Homo sapiens: one gene and its partner. The protein of the gene in region 2 purifies or fractionates together with the protein of the main gene of each other region. This does not show direct contact. Each region holds a gene or a part of one and is shown on either strand. Other genes may lie near its edges. The genes, in order: NMT2 and LRATD1.

Evidence for each region.
Region 1: the proteins of LRATD1 (region 2) and NMT2 purify together in Homo sapiens (affinity purification with mass spectrometry; one large-scale study listed by BioGRID and IntAct). This does not show direct contact.

The regions. Positions count from the first base shown.
Region 1 is NC_000010.11:15,133,925-15,137,748, forward strand, and holds part of NMT2 (glycylpeptide N-tetradecanoyltransferase 2), read right to left. Parts: exon of another isoform or gene 1,495-3,824; coding exon 1,350-1,494; intron 1-1,349.
Region 2 is NC_000002.12:14,636,713-14,640,719, reverse strand, and holds the end of LRATD1 (protein LRATD1), read right to left. Parts: 3' UTR 679-4,007; downstream 1-678. UniProt on the Homo sapiens protein: May play a role in cell morphology and motility.

The DNA of each region.
Region 1 (3,824 bases), on a different chromosome or scaffold from region 2:
ATCCAGTGACAAAGATGACATTACAAAACAACAGTGATTCCGAGTCTCAAGGCCTACAATGCAGCCTTATCTTACACACTGTCATAAGCAATGTAGGTTTCATTCAACAGCCTTGGGAGGTGTGTTCTTTTTACTGCATTTCCACAAACTGGGAGAGGAAAGGGCTGCGGTGACCTCTGCCCCTCCCAGCAAAACCTAAAAATAATTTCAAGGCTGGTTACTTCTCCCCATCTAAACTGCTAGCAGCGTAGTTCAGGCCATCACAATTTCTAGTGATTTCCACCAAGAAGAGTTTTCCAAGTCCTTCTCTGCAGAGCTTCCCAACATGGTAGGACTAAAACCCAGGCTCTTCCCCATGGCTGCTGCCTGCCTCGGCCCCTCTCCACACCCTCCCTGCCCCCTGCTCCCAGTGCTCTGGCCATGATGACCGGGGCAGGCCTCAGCTCAGGGCCTTCCTGGTGCCTTCCTTAGGCTTGAGGCCCTCTGGTCCTCAAGGGACGGGCCCCTTGGAATTCCCGACAGAAGCTTACGCATCACACGTCACTTTCTCCCAGCATCTGTTGCTTAACTAAAGCCTTTCTCTACCTCAGTGTGGCCGCTCCTCCCCAGCCTGGCCACCTTTTGTCCTACTTTTCCACCACTGTTTCCAGGTGTGTGCCCTGGACTATGCCTGGCATTTAATAACAGACACTCAACAGACACCTGCTCCATGAGGGACCTTCAGGGCCTGGTCCTTCCATCACAGAACCTTATATACATTTTTAATACTCTAATGGGCTAGGTGCGGTGGCTCACACCTGTAACCCAGCACTTTGGGAGGCCAAGGCAGGTGGATCACTTGAGCCCAGGAGTTCGAGACCAGCCCAAGCAACATACTGAAACAGCGTCTTTACAAAAAAATACAAAAATTAGCCAGGTGTGGTGGTGTGCACTTGTGGTCCCAGATACATGGGAGGCTGACATGGGAGGATGGATCACTTGAGCCCAGGAGGTGGAGGCTGCAGTGAGCTATGATCATGCCACTGCACTCCAGCCTGGGTGATAGAGTGAGACCCTATCTCAAAAATAATAATAATACTAGTAATGTTTCAAGTGTGGGGAAATTGGATGTTTTTATTGGGATAGAAATTGGACTAAAATAATGGTTATCAAAAGCCAATGTCACTATCTAATATTTATATTTTCAGAAGAAAAATATTAGTCTTGCATAGATTTCCAATCTGTGGTATGAAATAAATGATACATGTGAAGTTAACACTCTTTGTGTTTTGTTGTTGTTGTTGTTGTTGTTGTTGTTGTTCATCCAGCTTTGTTTGTGGGGAAAAAAAGAGAAAAGCAGAAAAACTTACCTAGTTTTGGTACCGGTTGTGTGTCCCAAAACTGGTATCTGTGCTTTGCAGCCTCATCAATGTTCCTGGCTGGGCCCTGGCATGCGGATAGCAGCTCCATTGCTCTCTGGATATCCTGCAACTTCTGCATTGGAACACTGGGATTCTACGACAGCAAAGACAGACACAGAATATGAGAGAGCGGCTGCTGATGTTAAACTTGAGCAGACGCACGTGCATCTGCCTCAGAGACTACAATACCTAAACACTAACAATCCTCCTCCAAGCCCAGTCAAGGCCATGGGCTTGTGTGTTACACATGAAAATAGAAGCAAACCCTCTGTTAAAGGTAACAACAGTTGTCTAGTTTTATTGGGGCTCTGGCAGTTTGGGGAATCTAAATTGAAGCACGCTTTGCTTCAGTTTCCCATCCATCTACAAATGGTCCCCGGCATTACTCCTCTGGGGGAGACGTGCAGTGCATGCATTACTGTCATCCAACAGCCAGGCAGCCACGAGCCTTGGGTGGGGGGCACTGTCAGAGTAAATGCTCTGCAGGAGCAACGAGGGGATGAAGGAAAGAACTTCTAGAATGGAAACACAGCAGAGAAGGGAAGGGAAGGGGAGGGGAGGGAAAGAAGAGAGAGAGAGAAAACAAAGAAAGAGAAAGAGAGAGAGAAAGAAAGAGAGAGGATCGGCAGTGGTGTCTCACGCCTATAATCCCAGCACTTTGGGAGGCCGAGGTGGGCAGATCACGTGAGGTCAGGAGTTAAGAGACCAGCCTGGCCAACACGGTGAAACCTTGTCTTTACAACAATACAAAAATTAGCCAGGCATGATGGCAGGTAATCCCAGCTACTCGGGAGGCTGAGGAGGGAGAATCGCTTGAACCTGGGAGGTGGAGGTTGCAGTGAGCTGAGATCGCGCCATTGCACTCCAGCCTGGGTGACAAGAGCAAGACTCTGTCAGGAAAGGGAAAGGGAAAGGGAAAGGAAGGGAAGGGAAGGGAAAGGGAAGGGAAGGGAAGGGAAAGGAGGGAGAGAGAGAGAAGGAGAGAGAAAGAGAAAGGGAGAGAGACAGAGAGAAAGAAAAGAAAAGAAAAAAGGAGGGAGGGAGCGAGGGAGGAAGGAAGGAAGGAAGGTAGGGGGGAGAGACAGAGAGGGAGAGGGAGGAAGGAGGAAGGAGAGGGACAGGGGGAGGAGGGAGGGAGAGAGGGAGGAAAGGAGGAAGGAAGGACAGATGGAAGGAAGGAAGGAAGGAAGGGAAATCTGAACTCAGTGCTGAACTGGGATGAAAATGATCAAGAAAAGAAATCTCTAACCATGCCCCTTCCTCCCGGCCACACCCTGCCCTTCTCCTGACCCTCCTGATCCTCCTGATCCTCTAGAGACAAACTCTCCCACCAGAAGGACAAGCAATTTCCTCTGTACTTCAGATCCTGGGCAACCATAGCCTGTCGTTCCCAGCCCAAGTGTTGGAAACTGGACTCCTTTTTAGGTAAAACATTACGTTTGAATTCTAAGGTTCCTTTCTCAAAGCCAATATTCCCGCCAGCTCTTGGAGATTCCCCAGTTCTTTTTTTTTTTTTTTTAATTCCTCAAATAACGTAATAATACATGGAACATGAGACTACTTGAAATGAGAAGACAGCGCAGAGGACTGAATATGGAAATCAATGACTTTTTTCAATATGTAAAATTACTGAGACATTGTAGAACTTTGATACCATGCAAAGAATATTCTTCGCTGTAATTCAGAAAGTGGTTAGAAGTTTCAAGAGCCCTTCGGTTTTGCTGTATGTCAACACAGGGTGGACACCATTGAAAGGTACAATCGACCCTTAGAAGTTTATAAACAGCAACTTTGGACTTCTGTTCCACTTGGAATCTGAAATCTGTGGTGTGGAGCAATAATTTTAACTTGGGAAGCTTACTCATCGTACACAGCACAGAACAGGGTTTGTTTCATACAAACACTGTCAAGAACCCTAAGGAAACGAAGTTCTGAAGTCCAGCTGGAGGCAGGTGAAAGTCTTTTTGTCTCTGCTTGGAAGTCTCACAGCACAATCCAAGATGGCCACAGTTTTTGTAAGCTGTTTATCTTACATTTGTTTAACATCAAAATCATAAAGGTCCTATCTTAATGACACATACAAATTTAACAAAATACTTTTCCGGTTCTCATTATTATATCTTTGGATGACTTCTTTTCCTTGGGTGTCTTTTAAGTCCCCAACATTAAAAGGAGCAAATTTCTAGCAAAATGAAATTCATGTGTATCTGAACTCCAACAACACCATCTATTAGAAGACCTTACAATTTAAATAGGAATTGAGATCACAGCATATTTCAACTAATAATGCTTAACTGTGCATCAGTTTAGCTTAAAATGGCAAAGTAGAGCCCAGTCTTATAAAAATAGAACTACAATGACTATAATGAATTTGTCATGGTACTTTTTCTTTCTTGATTTAATTTTTTGTTCCTTGATTTCTTT
Region 2 (4,007 bases):
AGCAAAGAGCTGGTATGTCACAGGGCTGTCACAGGGAAAATAACTGAATTTAGAATAATAACTTATTTGCTAAAGTAAATGTCAGTGTACTTATAATAAAGAAGCTCTCAAATAGAACATTAATGTCTGTATCACCCATTGATGGCAAGAATTTCCTTAGGATACATATAAGCAATAGCCTTATATGATCTTTTTCAATTTTTTGAAACATTAAATGATGCTCAAAGTAACTTTTGAAGCATTCATTTTGTGCTTGAAATTTAGGACACTGACTCTATTCATACCTAGTATTTCATAAGTATCTATCCTTTGGACAAAATAAAGTTCAGAACTCATGTTCATATTAAGAACTGGATTATAAAAGCCAAGAGGCATAGCAATTATTTTAATATATAAATGAGTAATGTGTATTTAGAAAAACACCCATGACCAAACTCCATCAAATCTAATTTTCCCAGAGTTAAGTGTACATCTAGTAAATCTATTCCCATATACCAAAGAAAATTTTTAGCAAGAGCTACAATAAGCTTCCTTCTGAAGGAATAATCTTGTGATTTCATGCGAGAAAAATCTCTCCTTGAGGTGAATGAGAGATGAAGTTGTGAAAGTTACAGTTGGAACTATTTTGCTTTTCCCTTCGCTTTTCCCTTTCTGACCAAATGACAAGAGAACATTTTCTACTTTTCCTGGATTCTTTTATTGTTTTCTCTGCTAAAAGCAAATCAAATATTACAAATACCCTTCAACTCAAATTAGCCTTAAGCCCCATAAGTTATATTTCCAAGAGCCTTTTGTGGTGGAAAGAACCTGCCAATTTTGGTTAGAGAAATTTCTTTAGGCTCGCCTTTGCAGGCAAGGCAAGTGACGGGCTTTCTGGTTTTCCTGGTAACCAAGAATCAGTGAGAAGCACTTGTACTAGACAGCTGCCATAGTCTTACATTTATGGAGTACCTACTGTGTGCTTTCTACTATCAGCCATCAAAAAGAATGATAAAAGTCCACAGCATAGGAATCTGTTCATCTGAGTGTTCTGCCAAAAAATACAGTAATTACAAGTAGTGTCACCATCAGTGACAAGGGCAGGGAAGACTATTTTTCCTTTTTTTCCCAACTTATTCAAATACTTAAACCTCTTCTATTTCGAGTTCAAATGAGGTAAACATACAACCTCAAAGGTAAACTTTGAGTTATGAAATAATGGGATTTTATGAATTACTAAATGATTGAAAGATAGGATCTTAGCTTCTCTTTAGTGTCTTCAGTTAGAAGGGAGAACAGGTGTCCCCTGTTGAAAAGTTTATTAGCTCATTATATGATCTCATAGCCTCCCCACTTTATCTTGCTTCTTATTTTTCAGTTACTTCCTAATATTTACAACTTTCCTTTGAATTTTTTCCTTTTAGTTAGAGAAACCAGGAACATATTCTTCCAAAAAATGAGAATAAAACTAATTGCACAACTCCCACATTTTCTTTTTATTGTTAGCTTTAGACATAGCTGCTTGCTGTGCAGTTATACATTAGCTATATGACCTCCAGGGCTTTTCTTCCTGTTTTTGTATATCTCAAGTCACTCTCTATTTTAAGTAGCCTGTGTGTGTGTGTGTGTGTGTGTGTATCTGAATGAAATAATTGCTAGCTATAGGCAAAAATGTATGTGTACACAAGTATATATACATGTGTATATATGTATATGAGTGTATACTTACATATGTGTAAATGTACATATGTGTGTATGTATATGTATACATGTACATATATGTATATTATACCAATAGCTAGTAATTTCAAAAAAAACATTGACTTGAGTGTTAGATAACCATTCTCTAAATTCAGTTTTTGATGTTTCAAGAAACCCAAAAGCCTGTCTTTTCACCTACAGACCCTTTGTGCACGTGGCAAATCACCTCTGAAAGGCAAAAACTAACTGGATTCTCTTCATTTGTTCAAAAAAGAGAAGAAAGCTTTAAAGATATGCCTATAAATAAAAGAAAATTAGGTTGCTATATTATGATTGTGCAATAAGTATTAATTTCATTGAAGTTTGACCCTGTTCCATGTATTAGATGACTAAGACATTTAACTCTTAGGGATGTTGAAAGCGCACCACAAAACATAAGTAATCAATAAAGTAATGTTTGAAGACTTTTAGTATATACTGCTTATTCAGGTAATTAATTATTTTGTAAATACTAATAGCATATTTTTCCAAGAAAAATAAAAAAGCCATGTTCTAACAAAAGTGTTCACCACAGAAAAATTAAACATAGGGGAAGGTAAACATTAAAGTTTCAAAAAAACAGGTAAATCATACAGCTGCTTCTGTGCTTGATGTTCTAATCTGGCACAAGTGTTTCGTAACTATAATATACGTTATTATTTTTAAAAAATACTGTCATGACAACAGCTTACATTATTAAATATTGAGGAACACTTTATATCAATTTAACTCATACTTAAAAATGTAACATACGTAAATTCTATAGTTTTTTTTTTTTTTTTTTTTTGGAATGTACTTTGAGAATAACAGCATTTCAGGACTGGTTTTGTTTAAAGTATACCCAGCCCCCCTCCTTATTTTATTTGATTTTTGGTTTAAATAAAAATGTAGCAAAGCACTCTTTGAAGTAAAAGTACCTGTCTTTTCTTTTTTCTTTTTTTAAATCATAGTTTGTTTTACCTGAAAGTTGAGAAAGAATGCAGTATAAATATAGCTTTTCTCTACACGGGAGCAGGGGGAACAGAACCAATCCCCAGCTTAGCCACACCCAACATCATGGAAATTACTGTGAACCTGTTGTCTCTTGAGGACAACTAAAACCAAAACGAAATCCCTAACATTATTAAAATGTTAGGAAACTTTTCAGGTAATTGCTGTAACTCTGGTAAAATACAGAAAGATTACATTCACTCATAATAAAAATCAAGTGTGCCCACGCCATCTGCAAAGGGAACTTGCACCATCTTGGTTTCACTCGCATTGTTAACAGTGCCCTAAAAGTATACACCTTTTTCAGGATAAAACCATTAGGTAATATCTTGATCATATCCTCTGCATGATGAACTATCACTCAAATTATTCTGTCATGGGTTACCTTACTAACACTGACAAAGAGATAATAAATGATAATTTTAACAGGGATAGGAGAAACCTTGCAAACCTTTCAAGTTTCTTTCATAACTATTGTTTTATTATTGCATATTTTTAGAGGTATTATCATCAACCTGATCCTTTATAGGCCAATATAGTAACAAATGCTAATTTAACTGCCCAGCTCATTTTTATTGTCAGTCTAGCCTCAGCAAGTATAAAACTGACAAGACATTCCTCTATGAGAGTGACCCTCTTAGTGAGAGAGAAATCTATGTACCATCAGAGGAAATAAATCTTAGTATTCGGTGTGATAGAGACTAATTCATTTCTTTTGATGAAGTCCCACTCTTTGAGTGACTTTGAAGGGGGAGACAAAATGTCAAGAAGGAGTCCTGCAGGAACAAGTGCTTAAGATGGTGTTTAATACAGCAGGGAGCCAAGATACAGTAGTAGGACACAGTAAAGAATGTGGAGTGTGTAGATACAATAAAGAATTCATTTTATGATCTGCCACCTGTTACTTGAAAGAGGAGTAAGTTAGGGAAATAAATGACTCAGTTCTTCATACATGCAAAGGTAAGTTAGTTATTACAAAAGTTTTTGCTGTTGTTTGTGCTGAAAGAAAAGCATATGCATTTAAACATTTTTTAAAAAATAAATCACTCAATAGGCTTAAGAAAAATACTTTAGTTCATAGTTCATTGATCTGACGTTTTGATTTAAGATCAGGGGATGAATCCAGGATGAAAACCAAAGAAAAAAAAAGAAAAAGAAAGAAAAATATAGAAGTGAATCATTTACCATGAAAAAGGCATTTCCAGCCTCAGCTAACCTCAACTAGTTTTTATTGCATTATTTTTGAAATGCCAAGAAACTGGCTTTGGCCATAATACTTGCTGTCCAACAAAATCACA